Homo sapiens: one gene and its partners. The protein of the gene in region 3 purifies or fractionates together with the protein of the main gene of each other region. This does not show direct contact. Each region holds a gene or a part of one and is shown on either strand. Other genes may lie near its edges.

The links.
Region 1: the proteins of RNF112 (region 3) and RACGAP1 purify together in Homo sapiens (affinity purification with mass spectrometry, with the first as the bait; one large-scale study listed by BioGRID). This does not show direct contact.
Region 2: the proteins of RNF112 (region 3) and CCDC86 purify together in Homo sapiens (affinity purification with mass spectrometry, with the first as the bait; one large-scale study listed by BioGRID). This does not show direct contact.
Region 4: the proteins of RNF112 (region 3) and DHX57 purify together in Homo sapiens (affinity purification with mass spectrometry, with the first as the bait; one large-scale study listed by BioGRID). This does not show direct contact.
Region 5: the proteins of RNF112 (region 3) and PRRC2C purify together in Homo sapiens (affinity purification with mass spectrometry, with the first as the bait; one large-scale study listed by BioGRID). This does not show direct contact.
Region 6: the proteins of RNF112 (region 3) and SRP9 purify together in Homo sapiens (affinity purification with mass spectrometry, with the first as the bait; one large-scale study listed by BioGRID). This does not show direct contact.
Region 7: the proteins of RNF112 (region 3) and KAT7 purify together in Homo sapiens (affinity purification with mass spectrometry, with the first as the bait; one large-scale study listed by BioGRID). This does not show direct contact.

Annotation. Positions count from the first base shown.
Region 1 is NC_000012.12:50,018,442-50,022,837, forward strand, and holds part of RACGAP1 (rac GTPase-activating protein 1), read right to left. Parts: intron 2,737-4,396; exon of another isoform or gene 2,621-2,736; intron 1,366-2,620; exon of another isoform or gene 1,303-1,365; intron 149-1,302; exon of another isoform or gene 111-148; coding exon of another isoform or gene 75-110; intron 1-74.
Region 2 is NC_000011.10:60,847,451-60,851,581, reverse strand, and holds the end of CCDC86 (coiled-coil domain-containing protein 86), read right to left. Parts: intron 3,659-4,131; coding exon 3,529-3,658; intron 1,643-3,528; coding exon 1,568-1,642; intron 1,377-1,567; coding exon 1,257-1,376; 3' UTR 501-1,256; downstream 1-500.
Region 3 is NC_000017.11:19,413,742-19,418,182, forward strand, and holds the end of RNF112 (RING finger protein 112), read left to right. Parts: intron 1-353; coding exon 354-404; intron 405-707; coding exon 708-764; intron 765-844; coding exon 845-919; intron 920-1,004; coding exon of another isoform or gene 1,005-1,028; coding exon 1,029-1,146; intron 1,147-1,296; coding exon 1,297-1,466; intron 1,467-1,544; coding exon 1,545-1,598; intron 1,599-1,776; coding exon 1,777-1,851; intron 1,852-1,963; coding exon 1,964-2,434; 3' UTR 2,435-3,535; downstream 3,536-4,441. UniProt on the Homo sapiens protein: E3 ubiquitin-protein ligase that plays an important role in neuronal differentiation, including neurogenesis and gliogenesis, during brain development.
Region 4 is NC_000002.12:38,869,094-38,873,489, forward strand, and holds part of DHX57 (putative ATP-dependent RNA helicase DHX57), read right to left. Parts: intron 1-4,396. UniProt on the Homo sapiens protein: Probable ATP-binding RNA helicase.
Region 5 is NC_000001.11:171,491,598-171,495,993, reverse strand, and holds part of PRRC2C (protein PRRC2C), read right to left. Parts: intron 1-4,396. UniProt on the Homo sapiens protein: Required for efficient formation of stress granules.
Region 6 is NC_000001.11:225,787,774-225,791,808, forward strand, and holds the end of SRP9 (signal recognition particle 9 kDa protein), read left to right. Parts: intron 1-1,466; coding exon 1,467-1,586; 3' UTR 1,587-2,691; downstream 2,692-4,035. UniProt on the Homo sapiens protein: Component of the signal recognition particle (SRP) complex, a ribonucleoprotein complex that mediates the cotranslational targeting of secretory and membrane proteins to the endoplasmic reticulum (ER).
Region 7 is NC_000017.11:49,791,681-49,795,180, reverse strand, and holds part of KAT7 (histone acetyltransferase KAT7), read right to left. Parts: intron 3,296-3,500; coding exon 3,148-3,295; intron 1-3,147. UniProt on the Homo sapiens protein: Catalytic subunit of histone acetyltransferase HBO1 complexes, which specifically mediate acetylation of histone H3 at 'Lys-14' (H3K14ac), thereby regulating various processes, such as gene transcription, protein ubiquitination, immune regulation, stem cell pluripotent and self-renewal maintenance and embryonic development.

The DNA of each region.
Region 1 (4,396 bases), on a different chromosome or scaffold from region 3:
TAAAACCGGCAGGAAGAGCTGTGGAATTCATGGAGATGCCATGGATTTAACATATAATGAAATAGGCAACATACCCTAAGTGCTACAGGACAGAAACAGGGGCAGGACATTGGGTAGTCAATTCAAATGTTGATTTCCTTTGGCTCTCCTGAGGTAAAAATGGAAGACTCTAATCAGTAGTTTTAATATAAGGTATTACTTTCTATCATCTCGGCATTCACTTATATATCGTGAGACTATAAGACAGCTCAATACCACGGCAAAACTTCTATCTGTCCAAGAATTCAAAAAGGAAAATTTCATGGTGCTAGGATGTTGAAAACTGGTTGTTTAAAAAAAAGCTTTTTTAGGGGGGGTTTTAAGTCTTAAATTACAATATAACCTGTTCTCTTGTCCATTTTTTTTTTTTTAATTTTTTGAGACAGAATCTTGCTCTGTCCCCCAGGCCAGAGTCCACTGGCGCCACCTCAGCTGACTGCAACCTCTGCTTCCCAGGTTCAAGTGATTCTCCGGCCTCAGCCTCCTGACACTGTTCTACTCTTCCTGTTCATGTCCATCAACTACGCTACTCACTGACCTACCCTATCCCATACCCTACTGACTTCCAATTTTGATTTCCCTATTTTTATCATTCTCTCAGTCGCTCAGTTCCAAACTTCAGAATCACCTCTGGTTCCTCCCCTTCCCACAGCATAATCACTAAACCTTGTGTACTCTTCTCTCATGTATCTACCATACCCACCCCCTTATCACTTGCAGGTTGTCACCACTCACTTCAATTGCACTCCCTTCCTCCAGTCCTTCCCCTACTGCTTCAGGCAGTTGCCACTCAGATACAAACTCTTTGCACTTGAATTAAACTTTACCATATGATTCTGCCCTGTGTCCCAGCTAGAATATAAATTTGAGGGGAGAAACCTTACATGCGGCACTACTATATTACACACACAAGCATGTAGCATTTAATATGATGCTCACAAAAAAAAATTGATAAGTGTTAATTCAGAGAACAAACACACACATATCTGTGATGCTATGGTCAAAAGAATTTCCATTCTACCTCAACATCAACGTGTAATATAGTTTAAAGCAAAAAGAACAGTTAAAAGCGGGAGAGGGAGCAGAAGTCCTGGGACAAGATGGGTGTGGTGGTGCGTGCCTGTAGTCCCAGCTATTCAGGAGGCTGAAGTGGGAGGATCACTTGAGTCTAGGAGTTTGAGACCACCCTGATCATCACAAGACCCCCTTCTCTTAAAATAAATAAATAAATAAATAAATAAATAAAAAGGTCCTGGGACAAACCTTTAGCTCTTCTATCTACCAGTAGTATAATCTTCAGTAAATCACTTAAATTCCATGACTCATCTATAAAGTGAAAACAATAACACTTGCTCTATTTACCTCATAGAATATTACAAAAATTTTAAAATGTATAAGTTTACAATCTCACTACCAAAATATAAGGTATCTTTTAGTTGGTATGAAGTGAGTTTCTTTTGTTTAGGTTTGGTTTTGGTCTGATAGTTGTTACTTCCATCCTAAAACAGTGATTCTCAAATCTAGGTGTTTTCCCCCCTAGGCTGTCTCCAAATAAGGATATCAGTAAATTCAGAATTTTAGACCATTTTTAAAAATAATACTATACAATTAGAAAGAAAAGAATCCAGTATTTACTAGGTGCTTTGAAATGATTCGGGCACTAAACTAGACACTTCACGTACACTTTTTCTTTAAGTGAATTTGACTTTTTTTCTGAGACGGTGTCTTGCTCTGTCACCCAGGCTGGAGTGCAGTAGCACCATCTCGGTTCACCGCAACTTCCATTTTCAGGGTTCGAGTGATTCTCCTGCCTCAGCCTCCCGAGTAGCTGGGATTACAGGTGCCCACCACCAGGCCCAGCTAATTTTTTTTTTTGTATTTTTAGTAGAGATGGAGTTTCACCAAGTTGGTCAGGCTGGTCTCGAACTCCTGACCTCTAGCAATCTGCTTGCCTCGGCCTCCCAAAGTGCTGGGATTACAGGCGTGAGCCACCATGCCTGGCCTCACTAACTTAATTATCTCCATTTTACAGACAATGGGCAACTAAGTCCAGAAACCTTAAATTAACCAATAAATGTCGAGTTCTCATTGAAACCCAGGTCTGAGTCCAAAATCTATATTCTCTCCAACCCAACACATTGAAGAGATAAGTTACAAAAATATCAATTAGACCATATATGTTGCAGACCTACTCAGAGACCTCCTGCAAACCATAACATGTCATACAAACAGCAACACATATAAAACACAAATTATAGCTGGAACCCAGACCAAGAAGAATCAAGGAAACAGCAAAATTTGGCCAGGTCTAGGCTTTTAAACAAGCTGTTCTAGATGAGGTTTGCTGCTTCTGAAGAGTTATTTTTTCCTCTAACATAGATTTACTTAGGGTAATCCAAAAATGGCACTAGCAGAATATAATCCTCTTCTCTTTATATGCTAGGGGACCATATATTTTTATTAACATTCTACAGAAGTGACTCTCAGGAATTATTTATAGATGACAAAAATATCTTTCTATATCAGTACTAACTCTGATATCTCAGCCAAATTGTAACTCAAAAAGCTAAAATTTACTCACCCTATTCAACGTCAATTGAAAATAGTTGTAATTTTCCTGCTGGGTCACATTTTCACCCTCATGAATACTTGTTTATTTCCCCCCATGTATTATTTAGTCCATAGCTAGGAGATACACTAATGTGAAAGGAAACAAAAACAAAGTCATATTGTAGTACATTGCTTTTGCAGCTGTAAAACAGCTGTCACTTTCCACAACAGAGACTGCTGCCTTTTCGGGAAAGCTGAAACGATCCCTGCGTGCAGCAAGAAACTCAGTTTGTGGAGCACTTTAAACCAAAAGGTGCTAGAGAATCTCAGCTGTTATTGATGGGGAACCCCAGAGGTGGAGAAGTCAGTATGTTACAGATTCCCAATCTGTGAGTATCCCTAAGGGAGCAATCTGGAAACACCATGAAAGAGTCTCAGCTGGATGTGATTGCTTTGAGCCCCCAATTTAATTTCAATCACCCAGCCAAGAGGTAGATATCATCCTTCAGAAAAACAGACTATTACAGATCTTACTGCAGGGTATCCTGGGAAAAGTCTCTATCCTCTTCTTCCTCCTCCTTCAAACAACATTATTAAGAGACCTATATATCAGGTTTTTTAGATGCATCAAGGGTGTTAAATACTTTAAGACAAAGCAATGAAAGGTTGCTGGAGTTTTTCAGGAAAGTGTTTTAATGAAAAACTTTCCCACAAACATTGCTAAATCTGGAGATTTCCAAGAAATCAACAATATAGATTCCCTGCTGTCAAGGAAAACCATTCTCAAAGATAATCTCAGTACTTTAAGATCCTTTCATAGGAACACATTTGAGGACAATGTGAGGACAATTCTTTTCCTGAAATGTCCAGCTTCTGCTTCACTGTATCGAAAGTCTCTAATACAACTGGCGGACAGAAGGATTATCTTGAAACCAAATGTTCTTTATAAGCAAATCACTTGCAGAGAGTAAACAAAATGTTCTCAATCCAACATGAAGACTAAAATAAGGAAGGGAAGATTTGAATTGTGATTTTTCAGAAAATTACTAGAAGTTCAGCATACTGAATACCTCTTTTTTTCCCTGTGAATTCTTCCTATTCTGGTCTTCCATCCTTCAAGGTCTAGAATAAGTCTCACCAATTCACTGAAGCCTTCCCTAACCATTTCAGTCCAAAATGATTTCCTTTATTATCTATAACATTCATTTAGCAGATACAAAAATACTGTTTATTATTAATCTTCTATGTTCAAAAAGTTAACAGTAAAACAGGCTAGGTGTGGTGGCTCACGCCTGTAATCCCAGCACTTTGGGAGGCTGAAGCAGGTGGATGACCTTAGGTCGGCAGTTTGAGACCAGCCTGATCAACATGGAGAAACCCTGTCTCTACTAAAAATACAAAATTAGCCAGGCATGACGGTGCATGCCTGTAATCCCAGCTCCTCAGGAGGCTGAGGCAGGAGAATCGCTTGAACCCGAGAGGCAGAGGTTGCAGTGACCCAAGATGGCGCCATTGCACTCCAGCCCGGGCAACAAGAGTGAAACTCTGTCTCAAAAAAAAACAAAACGAAAACAAAAACAAAAAATTAATAGCAAAACAAAAATCTCACTATCCTAAACAACTATATGTACCATCTGATCTAATCTTTGCCCATTTTACACTCTTATTTCATGGTGTTACAATCATACATTACATATAATTTTGTGTTTTGCTTCTATCATGTTTCCATTAAGTTCTAAAGAGTTGATGAACAACTATTTAACTATTCTCTTCTTTGGACGTTTAGGTCATTTCCAGTTTTTCACTT
Region 2 (4,131 bases), on a different chromosome or scaffold from region 3:
AGCCTCCCTGTCGGCCTGGTGTTCTGTGGGATCCCTCTGGGCACTGGTAATCCCAAGATCTGTGCAGCCCCGCCTCCAGGCCACATGGGGCTGGGCAGCTACCATTTCCCTTTTGCGGATGGGAGGGGTAACTTGCACCTCTGACCTATCACTTCCACTGCACCCCGTCTCATTCCTCCACCTGCCGTGGACTTGGGGTCAGAGACTGCTGTGTTTGAGCTCTGCAGCCCAGGGACCGAAAAGTTGGTGTCAATGAATTTTGCTTGGTGGATGAAATGTCAGTGGAAGAAGCAGATGAGAAACTCTTGAGATCTTGGTCCTGTGTTTTTTCTGCCACCAAAGGCCAGGGTCACTGAAGGCCTGGCCCACAGCAGGTGCTGAGCAAAGGGAACAGTGAGGTGCCCAGCTAGCTGCAGAGCCACCCTGTGTTGACACCTCGCCCCTGCTCCCTCCCATCCCTTCCCCCTTTACTCATAGCACTTCCCCCATTGGACACGTGGTGCATTTTGCTTGTTTATTATGTTTTCTCTCCATCAGAATGAAAGCTCCTCGAGGGCAGGGACTTTGGTCTATTGTCTGTATTTGCCGGTGCCTAGGATTGTGCCTGTATGCAACAGGCACTCAATAAATATTTTTGCTGTAGACTGGACAGGCATGAGTTAGATTCTCTGGGGCTTCTGCAGAGACTGGTTTGGGAAAGTGGGTGCTAGGGAAAAGCTCTGCTCCCTGCAACCTCCCCATTTTAATCTTTCAGTATTGAAAAGTGGAGAGGAACCGGATTCAGTCTGCTGGGGACAGAGGCAGTGGGGTGTGGAGGTGCTCAGAGCAGCCTTTGGGAAGGTGTGGGGGAAGCTGGATTCCCAACTGTCAGCCTCCAGGCCTGGGATGGACCTAGGATGCTGAGAAAGGGCATACACTGCTGAGGGAGTCACCTGCCAGTCACCAGCTCACTGAGGAACCAGAAGAATGTACAGTTCTTGGTTTGAAGGCACTTGGAGAAGGAGAGGAAGGAGGGATGGGAGCTGAATCTCTTCCCGCCCCCATCTCTGCCAGGTCCCAGGCCCCCTCTGGGCTTCTGTCCCACACAGACCTGCCTGGAAGCCTTCAAAGGCCGAGGAGCCCCGGTCGGGGTGGGGGTCCCTGTTCTGGAGCCATGGGTTTGGAGTGCCAGCTCCAGCAGAGGCATCTGAGCAGCGGCCTGAGGTGCTGTGTCTGACATGGTTGTTGGCCATGGAAGGCCTCGGGCCGTCCTGAGCTCAGATCTTGGCTGCCGGCTGCTGGGGCGGCTGCTTCTGCAGCAGGGCCAGGGTGTCCCGCTTCTCAATGGAGCGCAGCTGCTTCTTCTTTGCCCGCTTGAGCTTGGCGGGGTTTCGGATCTGGGGGTGGTATGAGGGGAGGACATTAGTGCAGCTGCAGCCTCGGTCCAAATTCCCAGGGGAGAGGAAGGCCGCCCCACAGGGGCCTGAGATCGTAGCATGAGAGTGGGGGTACATGAGGCAGGGGTCGAGGCCCTGGTTTGCACCCCCAAGTGGGGCAGAAGGGCAGAGGGGGAAAACGAGACACTCACCACTTGGACGACCTCTGCCTTCCGCTCATTCTCCAGGCGGCGTTTCAGGTTCTCAGCCCGGCGCTGTTTCTTCTCCTGGAACATGTGGGAGAAGGGGATTTGAGTCGGGGAGCAGAGGCAGCCCTGGTCTCTCAGGCCCCAGAAGAGTGCGAGCGGGCAGAATTCCCAGGAGGAAGGGGAAAGGCCCTCTCTGCCAGGCTCCAGGTTGGTGATGTGTGGGTGGAGGGCTAGCAATCCTGTGCCACGGTCTAGTGCCAGGGGCCTGCTGTGGTGGAAGCTCCTGATAGCATGTTGAGAGGTGGGTATGGGACAGGCAACTGAGGACAGGGGCTGAGACACTGGGGGTGCCCACCTGGAGATTCACGCACATGCAGACAGTGACCCCTCATGCCACCCTCATCAACTGCCAAGGGAGAAAGGGGTGCTGGCCCTTCCCCCATTCCCACCCTCTCCGACAGTCTCCCCCTCTTCCCCTGGAGTCCTGCTGCTGCAGAATGCCAGGCTAGGGGTGAGGGCTGGGTCCCTGAGATTTTCACAGGTGTGGGGCTGGGCAGGGGCTGCACTGCACAGAAAAGGCTCTGGAGCTATCTGGGCTGGGTTTCAATCTGGATCCTGTTATTTCCTAAACAGGAGACCTTAGCTAAGTCTGTGCCTCAGCTTCTTCATCTTTAAAGTGACAGTGACCACAGTATCTACCTCGTAAGATAGTTTTGGGAAATCAATGAGGGAATGCACGTGCAGGACTTGGAGCAGCCCCTAGCTCCTTGGGCACACTGAGACTCTAGATGGAGTCTGTCTTGGGAGGGGAAGCCCAGTGCTCTCTAGCCATGCTGACTGTGTCCCTCAGCAAGGCCAGGGTGGGGACGTCAGCTCCAAGGCTGCTGCATGGTTAGGAGTCTCTGCTGGCTTTGGTGACTTGGGGTAGCAGGGGTGGCCCAGGCCCCTGGGGAGGAAGGAGAAGTGAGCCTTGGCCTCCTGTGGTCAGGGCAGGCCCGGGCTGGGGGCTGGGCAGGAGCACCTCCGCAGTGGACGGTGAGAAGTGAGACGGCAGCTCTGTCTTGCCCAAGAGGGAGCCAGGGCCACACAGGAAAAGAGATAAGGCCTCAGCATATGGTGGCGGACACACTGTTCCTCAGATGTCAGCTGTAAGCTGAGCTGGGGTGACTTAGAGCAGGGGACAGATGACTGAGTGACTGGCCCACCCCTTTTCTCAGTGGCCAGCCTGGGACCACGGACTATGGATGAGTTGTCTGAATCCCGTTCGGCACTCCTCCTACACGCCTGGGTCATTAGAGGAGTGGAGGAGGAATCTCCCACTGACTGCCCTGCCCTGGGGGGCAGGAGCTGACCAATGCCACTCCGCTTTCTCTGCATGCTGCCTGCTGAGTGCCCTCTTCCCCCCGCTTAAAAGTCCCTGGCAGATGTGGGTGAGGCTGTGACCCTTTACAGGGGCTTCCTGGCTCTGGGATGGGTGACAGGGGACAGAAGTGGAGGAAAGGTGCGGGGGCCATCCACGTTGCTGGTGTGTGGGCTGCTTCTTGGAGAATGACAGCAGCCATACCGGGGACATGGAGTTCAAATCTGCAAGCCCTTCCCAACTGAGTACGTCCCAGCAAAGGGCCCTCGACCCCATCTCACTGACTGCCCTACCACCCAGGACTTCCTCCCGGGCTTCTCCCCAAGGCCCGCTTCTGGTCCTCCCCCTCCGTCCCTGTCCCTGAGGCTCTTTCAGCAGCCCAGGCTAAACTGTATGGTCCCCTGGGCCTCCCTGCCCTGTAGTCCCAGATTGCACTTCTGCTTCTGGCCAGGTGCCCTTCCTCCCTCCGGCCTTCAGATTCAAGAACGTTTTTTAACCAAGTCGGCCTCCCCCAGGCACCCGTGGAGGCCCTCGCCTCAGGTCTGTACCAGTAGACACTAGCTTAGTCCTCTGAGCCCCAGCCTCAGCCTGGCTGGCCCCTCACCTGGCGGCGCCTCTCCTTCTCCTCCTCCAGGTGACGGGCAAAGTCCTTGGCCAGCTTCCTCTCCTGTCGTTCCTTCATCTTCCGCTGCCACGATGTGCGCAGGGGCTTGTCCTGAAGCATCTGGGAGAATCTGAAAGGGGGAGAGTGGGTGCATACAGGGTCTGTGGGGCAAGCGCCACCCATGCCCTGTCTCCTCTCGGCCGGAGGCTCTGGACCTTCTTCCCCAGAGCCCAGGCAGAACCACCTCCTTGCTGGCCTGACAGGCGGCCTTCCAGGGCTGCAGAAACTTGGGGCGGGAGGGAACCCTGATCGTGCTGGCTGCCATTTCTCAAGCCTTGGCTACATGCCTCTGAGGTGGGTACTCCTATCCTCTCCACTTACAGAGGAGCAGGCCAAGGCGCGGAGAGGTTAAATAGCTGCCTAAAGATACCTTGTGGCAGTCAGGACTTGAATCCTGTCAGCGACTGCAGAGTCCAGGCTACGCGGCCCCTGCTGTAAAGTTCTGTTGCTTCCGCCAAGTGCATTTGGCCCGGGTGTGAATGCCTCTGGAGGCGGGGCGCTCACCCCCTAGGGAGGTGGCCCATTCCATTTCAGAACAGTGTG
Region 3 (4,441 bases):
CTCAAGGCCAGAGCATCTCACAGGCTTTGGTGTCTGGGGTCCTGATAGGTTCTGGGGCTGCCTTAGAAGGGGGAAGGTGCTCCTAGTTGGTGAAGGTGGGAACGTGGGTTATTCCTAAAAGTGGGCTGATGGTCCCAGGGGCAGCTGAAGACCTGATGGATCACATTACCCTCCAGGCTTGTCTCCGGCCTTGAGGCCAGCCCAGCCCTGCAGCCTTCGAGGCCCCCATACTGGCCTCTCCCATACTCTGAGGCCCACAGGCTGCCTGCGAGCTCCCTACTCACCAGGGCCTTCCCCAGTGAAGTCACCCGGCCTCTGTAATCTCTCATACATGTTGTTCTCTCTGATTCCAGATCCTCAGCACCTCCCAGGAGCTGAAGGATACAGACCTGGACTATCTGGAGGTAAAGAGACCTCTGATGTTGGGGCATCCCCCACCCCCACCCTCCCCACTAGGGCTGGACCCAAAGGAACTAGGTGCCCTCCTGGTCTGGCCTAGGGTTTTATGACACTTGAACAGGGTTGAAGGGGGAGGGTGGAGAGTAAAGCAAGAGATGTGTGGTCTGGGGAGAGGCAGGAGAACCCCAGGCTGCAAAAGGGGGAGCCTAGCTCCTACAGCAGGCGTAGGGAGGTGGGGAGACAGGCTTGGGGTGCACCATAGTCCTCAAAGTGGCCCAGCCCTGACGCTTTCTGTGTCCCACCCCCAGATGTTTGTCCACGTGGCCGAGGTGATGGGCAAGCATTATGGGATGGTGCCAATCCAGGTGAGACACCTATCTCTGGATTCATTGGCCCCAGGCCCCGCCACCCCCATTTGCTGGTGTCAGGACCCCTTCTCTTTCAGCATCTGGACCTCTTAGTTCGTGACTCATCCCACCCCAACAAGGCAGGGCAGGGGCATGTAGGCAACATCTTCCAGGTGAGTGGTGCAAGGGGATGGGGTGGAGGGGCCATGGACAGGGCAGAGGTGGGGAAGACATGGGAGGCTGGACCTCCTAGCTCAGAGCACTCCTCTCGCTGCCTCACAGAGATTGTCTGGCAGATACCCCAAGGTGCAGGAGCTGCTGCAAGGGAAGCGAGCCCGTTGCTGCCTCTTGCCTGCCCCAGGGAGGCGGCGGATGAACCAAGGCCATGCAAGCCCTGGTGGTGAGTGTCTCTGAGAGCTGAACCTCTCTTGCGCTGCTCCCAGCTCCCCTCCGGCAACCGAGCCCCTTGAAGCACCCACCTCTCCTGGCCTCTGACACCCCTTCTCCTCCCAAAGCCCGCAGTCTCTCAGCATGCACATCTCTCCCTCAGACACAGATGATGACTTCCGCCACCTTCTGGGGGCCTACGTCTCAGATGTGCTGAGTGCGGCCCCCCAGCACGCTAAGAGCCGCTGCCAGGGGTACTGGAACGAGGGGCGCGCCGTGGCCAGGGGGGACAGACGCCTACTCACGGGGCAGCAGCTAGCTCAGGAAATCAAGGTGTGAAAACTCCCTGGAGACCCAGGCGACTCGGCTGGGCCCCTGCTCTCCCTGACCCCAGCGATGGTATCTCCGCAGAACCTCTCAGGATGGATGGGGAGGACAGGGCCCGGTTTCACCTCTCCGGATGAGGTATGAGCGCTGGGGGATCCAGCATTCTGGCAGGGAGACAGGGGAGGCAGGGAGGTGGGGGCTGTGCCGAGGCCTCCGGGGTGGGGGTCTGTGTGCCCTGGGAGTGGAGATGAGGAAACAAGCAGCGCCCCTGGCTGAGAAGGAAGGAAGGAGGCAGCCTGGGTTTTCCCGTGGACAGATGGCTGCTCAGCTGCACGACCTGAGGAAGGTGGAAGCTGCCAAGAGGGAGTTCGAGGAGTATGTGAGGCAGCAGGTGAGCCCCGGGGCTGCACGGGAGGCAGGTGTGGGCCGGGCAGGGTCCAGATCAGGGAGAGGATACCTGGGACTCCTGGTCAGGGCACCTTCTTTTCCCCTCCCTGTCACAGGACGTAGCCACCAAGCGCATATTCTCTGCGCTGCGGGTCCTGCCAGACACCATGCGGAACCTCCTCTCCACCCAGAAAGATGCCATTCTGGCCCGCCATGGTGTGGCCTTACTCTGCAAGGGGAGAGATCAGACCTTGGAGGCACTGGAAGCTGAGCTGCAGGCCACGGCCAAGGCCTTCATGGACTCCTACACGATGCGCTTCTGTGGCCACCTAGCTGCTGTGGGGGGTGCTGTGGGGGCCGGGCTCATGGGCCTGGCAGGGGGCGTGGTGGGTGCTGGCATGGCAGCAGCTGCACTGGCTGCAGAGGCTGGGATGGTGGCTGCTGGAGCTGCCGTGGGGGCCACAGGGGCCGCTGTGGTTGGGGGTGGCGTGGGTGCTGGGTTGGCTGCCACAGTGGGCTGCATGGAGAAGGAGGAGGATGAGAGGCTTCTGGAAGGGGACCGAGAGCCCCTTCTCCAGGAAGAGTAACAGCCCCAGGAGGTATTGAAGGACAGGAGAGATGTCAGGTGGGGATGAAGAAGAGGGGCAGGTCGGGGGAGGGTGATGCCAGGGATTCCAAGGCACCGCCATGTACTGCACTGCCCTGGTCGAATGCTCGGTGTCTGGGTGGCAGCTGAGCTGGGACTCAAGGTGGCTCTTGGAACCTGGGAGGCAGCATCTGGGGGCAGTGGATAGAACACCCGGCCTGTTTCTGGTTGCAGATGGTTGCCGATCTGCCCTTGTCACAGATAGGCTACATCCCAGGGTTTCTGGCTGCAAGTGAGACTCCACCCTCCCCACCTGGCTCATTTCCCCGATGACCCTGGATTGTAGGAAAGTTAAGCAGGCACCATCCTGGAAGTCTACCCCTAGGTGGTCGAGAGACCTGTTCTTTCACAGATGTGAGAAGCCCCAGGATGATTGACCATGGTGTTCAGGAGCGGGGAGCACTGATGAGGTGCTGGGGATGACAGGAAGGAAGGAACACTGGGCAGAACCAGAGAGATGGGACATGGTAGACTGTGGCCCAGACCCCAGAGCAGAGAAACTTGTTCCCATGACCCTTCCCAAATCTGCTCCAGCAGGACTAAGGTGGCTTTCCCACTCCTGGCCCACAGCCCCAGAGAGCCTGTCTGTGCATCCTGAACCACTCTTTGCTGGGCCTCCGCAAGGGCCTCTCTTGGGTCTGTGTCCTTTTTCAAGCCTGTTTAGATGGGGGAGTGCCCATGCCCTCTGTGAAGTGCCCAAATGCGAAAGAATAACACCTTTTCTTGCATTCTGAGCTAAGCCAGACAGCCTTTATACTAGATTCTATCAAAATCTTGCAAAGGAAAACAAAATGAACAACTTCTACCCTTAAACACATCCTTTCTCCCCTGGGCTTGTAAGAAGATGCAGCTTGATGCAGCTCCTCAAACACCAGGCCCCCTGGGAACTGGGGGTGCGGGAGTTCTCCCTCTGGGGGACAGAAAATCTGACTACTAGGAAGACTTCTAGGCTATGAAACTGACTTCTAGGCTATGAAACTTACAGGGTATGGGTGGGCACATTATCCTTTATTTTATGAAAAATAAAATGTGTGTATGTGAATGTCAGCTTCCCAGTATATTATTGAAACAGAATTTAACCCTCAGATGACTTCATGGTGGGAGCAGGTGAACCAATGAGATCCATTGCTGGAATGCACAGATGGGAAGAGGGAGATTGGAATTCAAGAGATCCAAGGAAGTGAACGTCAGAGGTCCCCATTCAGTGGCTGCAAGAGGCCTCAGGCCAAGGCCAAGTGGATATGGGCACCTTTGCAGGCTCTTCCACTAGGACTTGGGGTTCCGCTCCTCTTGTCTCCTCTCTGAGAAACTGCTTCCCATGATCCTGTCAACAGGCAGTCAACAAGCACCTGTCCCAGCAAGAGGACAGAATGGATACATAAGCAGAGAGAACTTGGTCAAGCCTTGAAGGAAGGAGAAGCCCAGGACCACTTCTGCAGGGCTCAGCCAGCCAGGAGTTCACCCAACTGATTCTCCTCCCAGCCCTGCTCCCCAGCTCCCCAGCTCCCCATCTCAGAACCACAGCAGTAGTCACTGCATCCAATCCTGGCATTTTATAGGTGCACACCCAGAGAGAGAAAGTCTCAGATAAGCCTGTGCAGCTGCTGATGACAGAAGCAGGGGAACCCCGAAGTCCTGGTTCCCAAGCTGGTGCACTTCCTGAAGTTATTTTGTTAAGGTCGACTGTGCTGAAATTGAGATGCTCCTTTTCAGATGCTTCTTCTGGCTGATCAGGTCCAGCTCCAGGGAAGTGTGTGGTGGGCAGAGGCAGCAACGTGGTCTAGAACAGATGGCTCAGCAGTGAAGCTATAGTTAACAGGCTGGGGACAAAATACAGAATGTAGAGAAATCCCAAAGCCAGGGTGGGGTTGAGTGGGGTAAAGACAAATGAGAGTGACTCTCTCTTTTAGGGTCTGAGCCAAGGGTGGGAACAGGGTCTTAACTTTGT
Region 4 (4,396 bases), on a different chromosome or scaffold from region 3:
ACCCAGCCTAGCATAGGATTTTAAAAATCCAGTTGAGAAGTTTTCATGTATTTAATATATGTTTTGACAAAATTTAAATTTATATATGCTCTATCAGGAACACAGCTTGGGCTCAGAGATTCTGCCAAGGGCAAAAGGGAAGTAGGCCGTAAGACAGATAGCTCCTAATCTTTTTCCAAAGGACTGACTCCATTTACAATGGAGTGTGGAGAAGTTCAAACCTAAAGGTGCTTTCAAGAATAGTGAGGTTGTGGGGAAAGGGAGATTACAGGATTAAATGAAGATGTAGTTTAGACTGTTGGCCAACTAGTTTGCAGGAAGCAAACCAAGGAATAAGATCACTAGGAAGTTCCTTTTTGGGATTAGAATGAGTATTAAACTGGGATCTCAGAAACTATTGCTTCAAAGAAGCCATACTTTGGTTGGATTAGTTTGTAAAGGAATTTACTCTCCAGAGCATTGTTGAAAACAATTCAGCAATCAACCATGGGCATACCTAAAGCTGTACCTCCCAGAGGAGCAACAACAGAGGCTTAAAATCGTAGGAGGGAAATAGACTTCACTAAAATATTCTAGCCAGTCACTAAAAATTAAACCAGCAAATAACAATAAGAAGCCCCTGAAAGGGGAGAATCAGTACCCAGAGTTGTTACAGTATGTTATCCAAAATGTTCAGTTAACAACAAAAAAGTCACAAGGCATGCAAAGAAACACTTAAGTATAACCCATACACTGGAGAGAAAAAGCACAAACTGCCTATGAGTGAGAACAGATGTCAGATTTAACAGAAAAGGAGTTCAAAATAGTCATTATAAGTATGTTCACAGAAATAAAGGAATGCACAATTAAAGCAGTAAAGGAAGGTATGATGACAATGTCATATCAAATTGAGAACATCAATAAAGAGATAAAAAATTATATATATAAAAAGAACCAAATGGGAATTCTGGAGTTGAAAAGTATACTAATTGAAATTAAAAATTCACTAGAGAAGCTCAACCATAAACATGAACTAGCAAGAGAAAGAACTGATGAACTTGAAGACAGACTGACATTGATTATGCAAGCTGAAAACAGAGAGAACGATAAATGAAGAAAAGTGAACAGAGCCTTGGAAAAATGTGGGACACCATCAAGGGTACCATATACATATAATGAGAATACCAGAAGGAAAGGAAAGAAAGAAAAGAGCAGAAAAAATATTCAAAGAAATAATGGTAGAAAACTTCTCTGATTCATTAAAAATCAATAACCTCTACATGCAGGAAGCTCAATGGCCTCCAACTATTAGAAAATAAACACAGAGATGCACAAAATAGACATGTTGCAATAAAAATGTTGAAGGTCAAAAGACAAAGAGAAAATCATGAAAGGAGTAAGAGAAAAACAACTTATCACTTACAGGGGGGAACCCCAATAAAATTAATGACTGATTTCTTCACAGAAACAATGGAGGGCAGAAGGTAATGACATATATATTTAAAATACTCAAAGAAAAAAATAGGGCTGGGCGTGGTGGCTCATGCCTGTAATTCCAGCACTATGGGAGGCCAAGGCGGGCAGATCACGAGGTCAGGAGATCGAGACCATCTTGGCTAACACAGTGAAACCCTGTCTCTACTAAAAATACAAAAAATTAGCTGGGTGTGGTGGCACACACCTGTAGTCCCAGCTGCTTCGGAGGCTGAGGCAGGAGAATCACTTGAACATGGGAGACAGAAGATGCAGTGAGCCGAGATTGCGCCACTGCACTCCAGCCTGGGTGACAGAGTGAGACTCCATCTCAAAAAAACAAAAAACAAAAAACAAAAAAAAAACAACAAAAAATAGTTAACCAAAAATCCAGAAAAGCTATCTTTCAAAAATGAAGGTAAAATGAAAACTTTCTCAGACAAACAAAACTGAGAGAATTTGTTGTCAATAGACCCGCCTCACAAGAAATACTAACAGTTCTTCAAGTTGAGGCAAGTATCCCTGGATGGTAATTTAAATCTACATGAAAAAACAAAGAGTACTAGTAAAGGTAATTGAGTAATTATTTTTAAAAATCCACATTTATATTGGACATTTATTTATTTGAAAACCAGTACAAAAGTATTGTCTCTTCTTTTCTCTGAAATGATTTAAAAAGCAGTTATATAAAATAATATGTATATGATATAATGTTGGGCATGTCACCTACAAGAAGGTAATATGTATGTAATATATTTGCCAATAACAGCACAAAGAAGATTGGTGGGAGCGTAATTGTGCTGTGCTGAGAAAATGACTACAGACAGTAAAGTAATACTTGTAACAAGTATAGTTGGGTATATAACATTAATAGATATAATATGTATAACAATACTATAAAAAGGAGGAAAGGAATAGAGCTATATAAAAGTAATACTTCTATGTATCTGTCTTAGTCTGTTTTCTGCTATAACAGAATGCCACAGACTAGGTAATTTATAAACAACAGAAGTTTATTTGTCTCATGGTAATGGAGGCTGGGAAGTCCAAGAGCATGATGCTGGCATCTGCGTAGTGTCATCTCATGGTGGAAGATGGAAGGCAGAAGTGGGCACGATACAGAGAGAGGTACCAGCTGCCAGACTTATTTTATAATAACTCATTCTTTTTTTTTTTTTTTTGAGACAGTCTCACTCTGTTGCCCCAGCTGGAGTGCAGTAGCGTGGTCTCAGCTTACTGCAAGGTCTGCCTCCCTGGTTCATGCCATTCTTCCACCTCAGCCTCTGGAGTAGCCGGGACTACAGGTGACCGCCGCCGGCTAAGTTTTTGTTTTTTTGTATTTTTAGTAGAGACAGGGTTTCACCATGTTAGCCAGGATGGTCTCGATCTCTTGACCTTGTGATCCGCCTGCCTCGGCCTCCCAAAGTGCTGGGATTACAGGCGTGAGCCACCGCGCCCGGCCTAATAACTCATTCTTGCTATAACTAACCCACTCCCATGCTAGTGACATTAAACCATTAATAAGGGCTCTGCCCTCATGATCGAATTACCTGTTATTAGGCCCCATCTCCTAACACTGTTGCATTGGAAATTAAATGTCTAATACATGAACTTTGGGGGTAAACATTCAAACCATAGCAATATTGCTGGAATTAAGCTAATATAAATCTGAAGTTGTTCATAAACCCCAAAGCAATCACAAAAATACTACATTAGAAAATATTCACTTAATGACTAAATGCAAATGAAAGCATAAAGTAAGAACAGAAGAAAAAATAGACATTGAGAAATACAGACATCCAAAAGTAGAATAGAGTTAGATGTAATTCTCAGTATATAGACAATAAAAATAAATGTGAGAGAATAAAGCAGTCCAATCAAAAGACAGAGATTGTCAGACTTGATTAACAAACAGGATCCAAATATATTCTGTCTGCAGGAGAGGCACTTTAAATTCAAAGACACAATAAATGAAAAGTAAAAGGATGGAAAAAGATGATCTTGCAAACAGCAACTACAAGAAAGGTGGAGTGGCTATGTTAATAGCTTACAAAACAGACTTTAAAGCAAAAAATATTACTAGAGATAGGGATATTTCTTAATGATAAAAGGGTTAATCTGCCAGGAAATGATAACAATTAAAAACACATATGTACCTAATAATAAGGCACCAAAATACACAAAGCAACAACTGACAGAAATGAAGGGAGAATTAGACAATTCAATAATAATAGTAGGAGACTACAGTACCTCACTTTTAATGGTAGAACAACTAGACAGAGGATCAACAAGGAAATAAAAGACTTGAACAACACTCTAACCAACTAGACCTAATAGGTGTCTATAGAACACTCCACCCAACAACGAACTATACATACTTCTGAAGTACACATGAAACATTTTCCAGGATATAGACCATACTAGGTGATAAAAGAAACCTCAATACATTTTTTTTTTTTTAAGACAGAGTCTTGCTCTGTCGCCCAGGCTGGAGTGCAGTGGCACAATCTTGGCTCACAGCAACCTCCGCCTCCCAGGTTCAAGCGATTCTCCTGCCTCAGCCTCCCGAGTAGCTGGGACTACAGGCACCCGCCACCATGCTCCCTGACTAATTTTTGTATTTTTAGTAGAGATGGTGTTTCACCATGTTGGTCAGGCTGGTCTCGAATTCCTGACCTCAGGTGATCTGTCCACCTTGGCCTCCCAAAGTGCAGGGATTACAGGCGTGAGCCACTGTGCCCAGCCATAAACCTCAATAAATGTAAAAAGAAAGAAATAATATGAACTATGTTCTCCAACCAAAATGGAATTAGAAATCAAAAGCTAGAAAAAATTTGGGAAACTCACAAATATGTGTATATTAAACTAGGTCTTCCTAGGTATTCCTTTCTTCAAAATTGCTGATGATTATACATATGTATTCAGAGTTTATCTTAAGTTTGTC
Region 5 (4,396 bases), on a different chromosome or scaffold from region 3:
GCTCTCTTCTCCATTAGAGAATACAGTCAGAAGGTGGCTGTGTGCAAGCTAGGAAGAGCCCTCACCAGAACTACTATGCTGGCACCCTGATCTCAGACTTCCAGCCTCCAAAACTGTCAGAAATAAATTTCTGTTTTTTAAGCCATCCAGTCTATACTATTTTGTTATGGCAGCCTGAACTATGATGAGGGGAGACTGATGCATTAACTTCAAAAACCAGAATTTTATCACTCAAATTTTAACTAAATTGCCCATTTAAAATAAAAAAGCCCAAATATTCACCACACTCCTAGTTCCAAGTGAATCAGCATCCACAAAATATAAACCTTAAAAAAATTTAGTCACTTCCTTCCCTCAATCCACTTGATTTTTTAAGACTACTGAAAGTACTAGTCATTTACATACTTCTCCTTAAATAAACTTAATACAAATGAGAATCACACAATGTTTGAAGTAGAAAATCATTTTATATTTAAAAGAATGTGGTCAATATGAAATAATTTGGCCTGGATATGTTGGACCCTGTCCTTTTCCATGTCAATAACTTGAATAAAGACTTGGAAAGTAAACATGGCATATGAAATAATATATACATCTGAAGGAGTACCAATGTATTCCATGACCAAGATTTTTAAAGGTCTTAGAATGCTAGGCAGAATTAAACAATTAGTTATACAGTCATATTAACAGTTCAGAAACTGGATTTCATAAATGCAGAATACAGACCCAGACTGTCATGTGAAAAAGGTTCTAGCTGTGACAGCTAGTAGTGTGACAATACTGCTTTATAAAATTTTAATAGAAATCTAATGCACAGATTTGGAGTCATAACAGTTCCACTGAATTTTATGTTTGTCACAGTATGTTTAGAGTATTATGCTCAACTCCAGGCTTCATGAAGACAAACATTAACAAACGACTGAATGCAAAGGAAAAACTGTTCAGTTTATCCATAAGTGAGTAAGTTACATTAAACTAAAACTTATAGCATTACTTTAACAATTTGCCAAATAACCCAAAGAGCTGTGAAATGACGTGTAATTTTGCTAAAGCACAAAATGTAACTAACATGCCATGAGGTATGCATCTAGAAAATAAGCTTGGATATCCCTCACCACTCCTAATGCTGAGACCCCAGGCCCAGAGCTTTGTTTTCTTTTAGGGGATACAATAACTCTTACAAAGAGAAATCTGTTTCTTTCTTGAGGGAGGGGGGCAGGGTGGGGAAGAGCAGTGAAGAGGAGGCCAAATCCTAGTGTAGATCACGGAAGGCGAAAGTGAAGAGGTTTGAATGCTAAATACGGAAATTTGTAAGATCTTAGGACATATGCTTTGTGAATGTTAAGGGGTGACTGTAGTAACCTACTAATCATCAGATGGATCCAAGCAAAAGCAAGGTAAGCCTGTCAGAAATATTATAAAGATAATTCTTGCTTTGAGTAAGAAGTTGAATTGGCCACTTACAAGGTCTCTTCCATTTCTAGTAGTTAAAATGAACTAGTAATTCTAAGGTCAAATATTTTAAGAGTACATTTGCCACTATAATAGTAAAGCTAAGAATACCACCATATGTTGAATTCTTTTACTACAAATAGCAGTTCGGCAAAAACATCCAAAATGGTCATTTTTTAAAAAACAAAGTGTAATATAAATAAATCTGCTGGAGTTCTAATCAGGATAGTGGAAGGGCTCAGGCTGTTCCTGGAAACTGAAACATGTGAATTAAGTTTCCGGAGTAGGATAAAGCCTTAACAATCAGAACAGAAATGTAGCTATCAAATTTTCTGTACTAAAAACTGCTGTCCTTAAAAAGTACAGCTGTTCTGTCTACCGATTACTTAATGAGGTGATTGCCAGGGCATTCTTTTTAACAACTTATGTATTTTAAAATTGTTAAAATTACACAACTGTTTCTCTTAAAACTGTTTTTGTTTAAATTCTAGCTCTAATATTTAGTAGCTAGGTGACCACAGGCAAATTACTTAATCTCAAATTTTTTACTTCCTCACCTGGGTGGGCTATAATATCTACTCCAATACTATTATAAGATTTAATTAACAAAGTGTGTATAAAGCTCTTAGAATAGTGTAAAGCCTGTAACAAAAACTTATTAAGTGGTAATCAATATTTGCAAAACTAATATATTAAAAAGAAAAACCCAAGCATAGATAATTTCTTCTCTTTTTTTTTGAGACAGAGTCTTGCTCTGTTGCCCAGGCTAGAGTGCAGTGGTAGGATCTCCGCCTCCCAGGCTCAAGCAATTCTCCAGCCTCAGCCTCCTGAGTAGCTGGGGTTACAGGCGCCTGCCACCACAACTGACTAATTTTTGTATTTTTAGTAGAGATGGGGTTTCACCATGTTGGCCAGGCTGGTGTCAAATTCCTGACCTCAAGTAATCCACCCACCTTGGCCTCCCAAAGTGCTGGGATTACAGGGTGAGCCATCGCTTCAGGCCCAAAGCATAGATAATTTCTTAGTCAACCTTTATTTATTATTTTCCTTTTCAACAGTTTTACTCTGTCACCCATGCTGGAGTGCAGCAGTGCCATCACTTTGCAACCCTGAACTTGAGCTCAAGTGATCCTCCTACCTCACCCTTCTGAGGAGCTAGGACTACAAGTACATGCCACCCCATCCAGTTAATTGAACTTTGTTTTTTGCAAGGCCAAAGTATGTTGAATGTTATGAGAGTGAAAGAGAAGTACTTGCTCCAAGATGCTCATCTAGCATTATGAATTATGGTTAATCTTTTGGAGGACCAAAGGGTTGCCTTTAAAAGTCAGAATATTAATTTTAAATTTATTAAGTGTAGAGAATTGGTTAACATCCCTCCGTATCATTGGCCCTCTTCTTCTACCACTGAAATATCCAGTCTTAAGACATGTAAACCTATTTCCTTCCTTCTCTTCTTTTATTATTTTATTTTATTTTATTTAAATTCCCCGGCCAGGCGCAGTGGCTCACGCCTTGTAATCCCAGCACTTTGGGAGGGCGAGGCAGGTGGATCATTTGAGGTCAGTTCAGGACCAGCCTGGCCAACACGGTGAAACCCCATCTCTACTAAAAATACAAAGATTAGCCAGGTGTGCTGGTACACACCTGTAATCCCAGCTACTCGGGCTGCTGAGGCAGAAGAATTGCTTGAACCTGGGAGGCAGAGGTTGCAGTGAGCCAAGATCGCACCACTGCCTCCAGCCTGGGCGACAGAGAGAGACTCTGTCTCTAAATAAATAAATAAATAAATAAATAAATAAAATTAAAAAAATTCCCCTACCCTCTTGCTTTTAATAAGAAACAGGGTCACCTTAATGTTGTCCAGGCCGGAGTGCAATGGCTATCCCACTACTGATCAGCATGGGAGTTTTAACCTGCTCTGTTGCCAACCTGGACCAGTTCACCCCTCCTCAGGCAACCTGTTAGTCCCCCACTCCCAGGACACCCTATTGATGCTGAATTTAGTGCAGACACTCAGTCCATATGTAGAACACAGTGCGCTACCCTCCACAACTCCTGGGCTCAAGAGATCCTTCCACCTCAGCCTTCCAAGTAGCTAAGACCACAGGCACATGCCACAACACCCAACTCCTTCTTTTTCTTTCTCCTACTTTCATTCTTTCTATGTTCAAGTTTGTCATAAATATAACAGTATAATCAAAATATTTTTTCTTTCTAATCAGAAAACAAATCATTCAGCATGGGTAGGCCATTCTTGGCTTTTTCCATCCCTCTTTAATAGTTATTTCTTCAAGAGAATTTCCCTGTCTCCAAAATGCCAGAAGACTCTAGTTCTACAGTTGGGAGATGTTTTATCTTTCTACATTCTGTATCCTAGTTGTGGGGGCTACAAAAATCCATACGTACTAAAACTTAAAGAACTGTACACCACAAATCAAATTTCCAAATATAAACTTAAAATTCACCTGTCTAAAGCCTCCTTTGTTTTCAATGTCCTCTGTTTTCAAAATAAAATGCCACTGTTCCATTTTCCTAACCTTCAGAAGTAACTGTGTACCTTCCCTATTGTGCTTCTTCAATTAAGAGCTATAAAATTTATATAGCTTTAATTATAAAACCTAACATTAAAAAGTTACTTATATATAAAACTACCAGCCACATGACCAAAAATCTAAATTTTAATTTAAACCCCAAAATTACAAAGTTTTTGGGTAAGATTAAATTGTGTTAAGTATTGTTTTACTCTTATCACTCTTCTTTGAAATATGATAAACTATGATATTTAATATAGTTTCTTGATTAATAAAAATATTTAATAAGCTACAATACAGATCTTTAAAGTACACTGGATAAATGAGAATTCTGTACTTGCCCAACCACCTAACCCATCTCAGCAAAAAGTTCAAAGCTTTTTGTTCCTTAGTGACCATTTCTCCAATTT
Region 6 (4,035 bases), on a different chromosome or scaffold from region 3:
ATTCTCTCATAGGACATGTGCTAAAATTTTGATGATGAAGATTAATATGGCCTTTTTACAAGATTGCCGCACAAATTTGTACAATGCGTGGATAAAAATTTTTTTAAGTGAGTTGTTTAAAAGGCTCACTTAAAAAAATCAGTTGGGCATGATGAGGTTGAACTTCAAGTTATTTAAGTTGTTGACTTTTATTATAGGATCATTAGTTCCTGTTGTTTAAAACTCATGTGAACCTTTAAGATGGGCTGAAGAAAAGTGGATCTGTACTACAAAATGAGGAAAGGGCTGCCAGCTTAAAGTTGCTGTTTTTGAAGATTCTACAACAGATGGCTTTATGACCAACCATAAGCAGATCTTAAGTATCTAGTGAAGAATTTAACTGCTAACAAGGAAGAATTTGGTTTGATTTAAAAGTAATATCTTCAAGCCTGGGCAACATGGAGAAACCCCGTCTCTACTAAAAATAGAAAAATTAGCTAGGTGTGGTTGTGTGTGCCTGTAGTCCCAGCTACTCAGGAAGCTGAGGATCGCTTGAGCCCAGGACGCAGGTTGCAGTGAGCTGAGATTGCACCACTACACCCCCAACCTGGGCCACAGAGTGAGACACTGTCTCAAAAATACATACCTTCAGCAAATCAAGATTTTTTTTTTTTTTTTTTTTGAGACGGAATCTCACTCTGTCGCCCAGGCTGGAGTGCAGTGGCATGATCTTGGCTCACTGCAGCCCTCACTCCTGGGTTCAAGCGATTCTCCTGCCTCAGCCTCCTAAGTAGCTGGGATTACAGGCACACGCCACCACGCCCAGCTAATTTTTGTATTTTTAGTAGAGACGGGGTTTCACCATATTGGCCAGGCTGGTTTCGAACTGCTGACCTGGTGGTCCGCCTGCCTCGGCCTCCCAGAGTGCTGGGATTACAGGCGTAAGCCACCACGCCTGGCCAAGAAAATCAAGATTTACCTGGTTTATGTGTTGACCAGCTATACACAGAGAATTCTAGATTTTTTTCTAAAAATTATTATCAAACCCCCAATTTCACCAGTAGAAAAAGAGATCTTAAGATTTCTGTGTTTTTTTTTCCAGCATAACTCAGTTACTTATGGCTGGGAGAAAATATGTAGGGAGATAATCTAATACCTAATTCGAAGGAAGAAAATATCTAATTCTAAGTCTTGAGTTCTTCTCATCAGACCATAGCAGGATTTAACATTTAACATTTTTCAGAAGCTTCTAATAGACTTCATTCAGTTTTTTGTCCACAGCAGTGGCATTTAAATTACTGTACTTTAAGACATGGAATTGCTGGAGGCTTGGAAACTTGAGTGCAATTTCCCTAGTACGACCTCCAAGGAGAATAGAGCAAAACAGTGGTAGGAAAAACTCTCAAAATTTTACCCAATTGTATGTTTTCTACATTGTCAGTATCTAGTTTTATATAGTTAATATGTACTTCTAAAATTTCTGACAGTGTTTGGTGTATAAAACAGACCAAGCTCAAGATGTAAAGAAGATTGAGAAATTCCACAGTCAACTAATGCGACTTATGGTAGCCAAGGAAGCCCGCAATGTTACCATGGAAACTGAGTGAATGGTTTGAAATGAAGACTTTGTCGTGTACTTAGGAAGTAAATATCTTTTGAATTAGAGAAAGTGTTGGGACAGAAAGTACTTTATGTAACTAAGTGGGCTGTTCAGAAGCTTAGAGGTCATTTTTTGTAATTTTCTTTTTAATTACTTTAGAGAGCTAGGGATGCAAATGTTTTCAGTTAGAAAGCCTTTATTTACTTTTGGAAATTGAACAAGAAATGCATCTGTCTTAGAAACTGGAGATTATTTGATGTTAGGTAAAACATGTAATTGTTTCTCTGGCAAATTTGTATCAGTAATTTGAAAATGAGATATTAGGAAAAACCAATTCTTCTTAAATTTAGTTCATCTTTCTTTAAAAGAACATTAAATGTAACCATTTTGTCAGATCCATGTATTTTGGAGCATAAAATGTATGCTGTTGTGACCAATAAATATAAAATATGGTAATTGGAATTAACTCCACACCATAGTATGCATTGTTATACATACTGTGTACCTAATTATGTATAGCAGTGTAGTCTCAATTATATCTGAAAGTAATTGTGACTAACAAGTATGCTTTGCCTTATTTCCACATTTAAACTACCTGTTAATATAAGGGATTTGTAGTATCAGCTTGTTGAGCAATGACTTTGAATCTAGTTTTCAGTGATCAGAAGCAGCAGTTATTTGAGTGTATGAATGGAATGATGATCACTGTGCTATAATGTACTGAAACCACCATATTACAGAAATATTTACTACATATTTTCCATCTGTAGTTTCTCAGAAGGGCTATGGATTAGTTTGAACTGTCAAATCCTTGCATACTTCTGTGACACCCCTGCCCATTTTCTGTCTTTAATTAACCAAGGTGTTAGGTGTGACTGTCACAACTGTTATGTTTTCCAGTAAACTAGAAGTACGATATTTGATAATTATATTTGTATTTCACCACCTAAATGTAATGTTGATTCCTCAAGAATGAAATGAAGGCACTACATTGAAATATGTTTTGTATAAATTTGTCATGTTGAACAGCATTTTAGCATGGTAAGTTCCCTTAGCTATATGAATTTTGGCATGTTTCAGAGAGATCAGTAAATAAAATATTAGATAAAATATATATTGTTTGTGTTGAAGTTTTTAACTTTTCAGAAATTGTTGATTTCTGAGCTGGGATATACTATATTCATTTAGTCCAAAATGAGCCTAGTAATGCTGAAAGCAAATTTTTTGTTTCTCAGTACTTTATATTATATGACTTTCTCTGCACTATATGTTAATAGCAAGTTTGTTTTCTTGAATTAGAAAAGTAACATCAAATAGTATAGGATTATTTTGGCTTTTTGTTTTTTTTTCCCCCAGAATTAATGGGATCACCATCAGGGGAGGGGAGAGGCTTGACCTTTTTCCCCCTTATTTAACACTACAGAGATGACCTGAAAAGGAGAGACTGGCATTTGGGTTCTTTGAGTCCTGGTAGCGTGTAACAGAGTGGTTAAGAACAGACATTCCAAGTCAGACTGCCTGGCTTTAAATCCTGGCTCCACTATTTCCTAACTCTGTGGTCTTAGACTAGATACTTTTCTAAGCCTTCATTTTCATCTCTGGAAATGGGGCCAACAATAGTACTTTGCTTGTAAGACTGTTAAGATTAAACATCATGATCCAAGGCTGGGCACAGTGGCTCATGCCTGTAATCCCAGCACTTTGCGAGGCTGAGGTGGGCGGTTCATTTGAGGCCAGGAGTTTGAAACCAGCCTGGCCAACAAGGTGAAACCCCATCTCTGCTACAAATACAAAAATGAGCTGGACACAGTGGCACACTGTTGGGGTGATCAGGCCCAACACCAGGCCATGGGGGCTACAAAGTCCAGCAGGGTCAAAGGAATGAGAAAAGACGAGTGCATAAAGTGGGCCAGGCACGGTAGCTCACGCCCGTAATCCCAGCGCTTTGGGAGGCCGAGGCGGGCGGATCACAAGGTCAGGAGGTTGAGACCATCCTAACACCGTGAAACCCCGTCTCTACTAAAAATACGAAAAAAATTAGTTGGGTGTGGTGGCGGGCGCCTGTAGACCCAGCTACTTGGGAGGCTGAGGCAGGAGAATGGTGTGAACCCGGGAGGCAGAGCTTGCAGTGAGCAGAGATCGCACCACTGCACTCCAGCCTGGGTGACAGAGTAAGACTGGGCCTCAAAAAAAAAAAAGTGCATAAAGTGGGTCCAGAGGGCCAGTGCCAGATTGGAGGCTGTGAAGGCCCCAAGCTCTGGGAGCCCACACTATTTATTGGTGATCAAACAAAGAAGCAGGTGGTAAGGACGTGAGGGTAAACAGGTGAGGGCGTGAGGATGTGGGGTAGAAAGGTAGTGGTACATAAGCGTAGCTGTGATGGTTTAGCATTTCGTTTGATGTATATAGAATATGCTCTGCTGCTTGAGTTAATGGAGGACATGTTTACAAGTAAG
Region 7 (3,500 bases), about 30 Mb from region 3:
CAAACACTTGTCATTTCTTTGTGGTGAGAACAGTCAAAATCCTCTCTAAAGTATATTTTATTTTAATTAATTAATTTTTTTTTCAGAGGGCGGGATGCACAGGCCAGGGCGCGGTGTCAGCCTCACTCTCTCACGGCTGCACCCCCCAACGTATATTTAAAAAAAAAAAAAATCTGAAGAAATCTTATAGATTCTCTAAAGAAGAAAACTGAAAATTTCCAAACTTTCGGGTGAGAAAAGTTAGCACAGAGCAAGGTTATCCATTTGTACATCTCCAAGGGGCCTCCTTTCACAATATGATCTACCTTGTGCTCTAGGGAGGACCACCTTACATTGCTGACATTGTAAATGGTACCCCTGGAGTTGTGCAACTCTGTGGTCATGAGGTATGATAACCAGAAAGAGACTCAGTGCTTACGCATTTCCTAGCTGTTTTGAATATTTAGTTTTCAGGTGTCTAGGGCATGGTCAATTATACTTCCTACAAACATTATGTCTTTTCCTTAGCATATGCTGTTCCATCTGCCGAGAATAACATATTCCCATCTTTCAACTTGTAAATTCCTATCAGAGCCTTTAAGACATCTCAGTGTGCAGCTGGGCACGGCGGCTCACGCCTGTAATCCCAGCACTTTGGGAGGCCGAGGCGGGCAGATCACTTGAGATCAGGAGTTTAAGACAAGCCTGGACAACACGGTGAAACCCTGTCTCTACTAAAAATACAAAAAATAGCCAGGTATGGTGGTGCTCGCCTGTAATCCCAGCTACTTGGGAGGCTGGGGCAGGAGAATTCCTTGAACCCAGGAGGCGGAAGCTGCAGTGAACCAAGATCATGCCACTGCACTCCAGCCTGGGCGACAGAGCGAGATTCTGTCTCAACAACAACAAAAAAGACTTCATCATTGTGGGAGTGCTGCCCTAAGTTGGCTGTCCCACCTCTGGGCTTATGTAGTACTCTATGCAAACCCCTCTCACAGCCCTTGCCATAATGTATTCCCATGATCAATTTTCATATCTGTATCTTGCACTGAACTGTAAGATCTTTGAGGACAGGAACTATGATTTTTCTATCATGGTTCCTAGTACATAACATACTGCTTGAGTTATAGTAGCTATTTATCCATAGTCTCATTGTGGTAAAAATTTAAAGCTTAAGAAATCAAGAGACAATAGCAATACTTTAGCTGAAATCCTAAATTCAAAAATAAAGTTAGGAACAGTTGTTAAAGAGGATATTCCCACTTTCTTGCTTGAAAAACTGATGGTTTTTCTCTCATTGTGCAACATACTCATATAAAAGTGACCAAAGCAGCAGGGCGCGGTGGCTCATGCCTATAATCCAAGCACTTTGGGAGGCCAAGGCAGGCAGACCATGAGGTCAAGAGATTGAGACTATCCTGGCCAACATGGTGAAACCCCATCTCTACTAAAAATACAAAAATTAGCTGGGCACGGTGGCGTGCACCTGTAGTCCCAGCTACTTGCAGGCTGAGGCAGGAGAATTGCTTGAACCCAGGAGGCGGAAGTTGCAGTGAACCAAGATCATGCCACTGCACTCCGCCTGGCAACAGAGCTAGACTCCATCTCAAAAAAAAAAAAAAAAAAAATTAACCAAAGCAACACTGTTGAAGTGCTCAAAACATGTTAAAGTTTTTTTCCCTTCATCTATTATCACCTGTTGATCATCGGCTTTCTGTATTAGCTGCAACCTTCTTTCCTCCTCAGGGAATACCAGAGCAGAGCCAGGAGGGTCAAGGGTACCCTCCAAATCTAACCCCAGATGCCTAAATGCACTAGAGATAGTTCAAACTACCTTCCAACCCCAAGATTCTCAATTCCTTATTACCAAAGCAAAATTCCATTATTTCCACACTGATATTTTGGTACAACTATTAATATCTATCAAGTGTTTATTGGATTACATTCCAGAGTTAAACATGGTTTTAGAAGTGGGCCTCTGCCAAGAGTAAGTCCAAGAGACTACAGATGCTCCTTGACTTGTAATGGGGTTAAGTCTCAATAAAACTATCATAAGTTGAAAGTATTATAAGTTAAAAATGCATTTACAGGCTGAACATGGTGGCTCACATCTATAACCCCAGTACTTTGGGAGGCCAAGGTGGAAGGACTGCTTGAGTCCAGGAGTTTGAGACCAGCCTAGACAACATAATAAGACCTCATCTCTACAAAAAACAAAGAAAACTAGCTAGGCATGGTGGCGTGCACCTGTAGTCCCAGCTACTCAGGAGGCTGAGGTGGGAGGATCACTTGAGCCAAGGAGGTCAAGGCTGCAGTGAGCCAAGATCACACCACTGCACTCCAACCTGTGCAACAGAGCACAAGACCCTGTCTCCAGAAAATAAAAAAAACCGCTATACACCTAACCTACCGAGCATCATAGCTTAGCCTAGCCTACTTTAAATAGGCTCAAACCACTTACATTAGCCTACAATTGTGCACAATCATCTAACACAAAGCCTATTTTTAATAAAGTGTTGAATATTGCATATAATTTATTAAAGACAGTACACTGAAGAGTACTGGTTTACCCTCATGATCAAATGGCTGACTGGGAGTTACGGCTCACTGACTGGAGTTATTATGGCTCATTGCCACCACTCAGCAACATGAGAAAATATTTGGCCCACATATCACTGGCCCAGGAAAAGACCGAAATTCAAAATTCTAAAAGTTTCCACTGAATGCATATTGTTTTAGCACCACTGTAAAGTTAAAAAAAAAAATTAAATCAAGCCACCATAAATCAGATACCATCTGGACTTCAAGTCCCTAAGCCTCAAACATTCAAACAGAAAGTGAAGGGATAACATTCCAATTTTACTGATGGAGACACTGCGATCTAAAAAAACAAACAAACAAACAAACAAATGACTCAAGACATACGTGTGTCTCTATCCATTATACCATCCGCAGTTCCTTTGGGTCTACAGATTGGATAGTAGCCCCCCACAGAGGCATTGTTAAAGACCTGACAACTCTGCATTCACTCTACATTTTACCAATCATCTGGTGCACTGTCATCTACACCAAGCCAAGGGGCCAGTTTCCACATTAACTAGGAAAATAATGTGATGGGCCAGTCAGCCAGATGTGAGGAGTGGTAAGGAAAAATGAAGGTTTTTTTACCTTGAGAACTCTGGCTTAGCCTGGCTGAGGAGCGGGTGACTCGAGCAGATCGTCGGGATGTGCCATCACTTTCTGAACTGTCTGTGTGCTCGAGATCTGTAGAAAAATCGGAATCTTCGGTTCCATCTGAACTACTGCCTGCATTCCTCTGTAATACCATAGATCCAGATATTAGCACAGAAGCATTTGGTCTGAGAGTTTGCATTAACATTGAAAATAAAACAAGCTGTGACACTGAAAACCCCAAGTTCAAACCTAAATAAGGATTCCACAAGCATTTCTCATCCTCCCACCCCCTCAGGCAACTTCACTTTATTTAGAACACTTAAATGGAACAACCTACAAATAGGGAA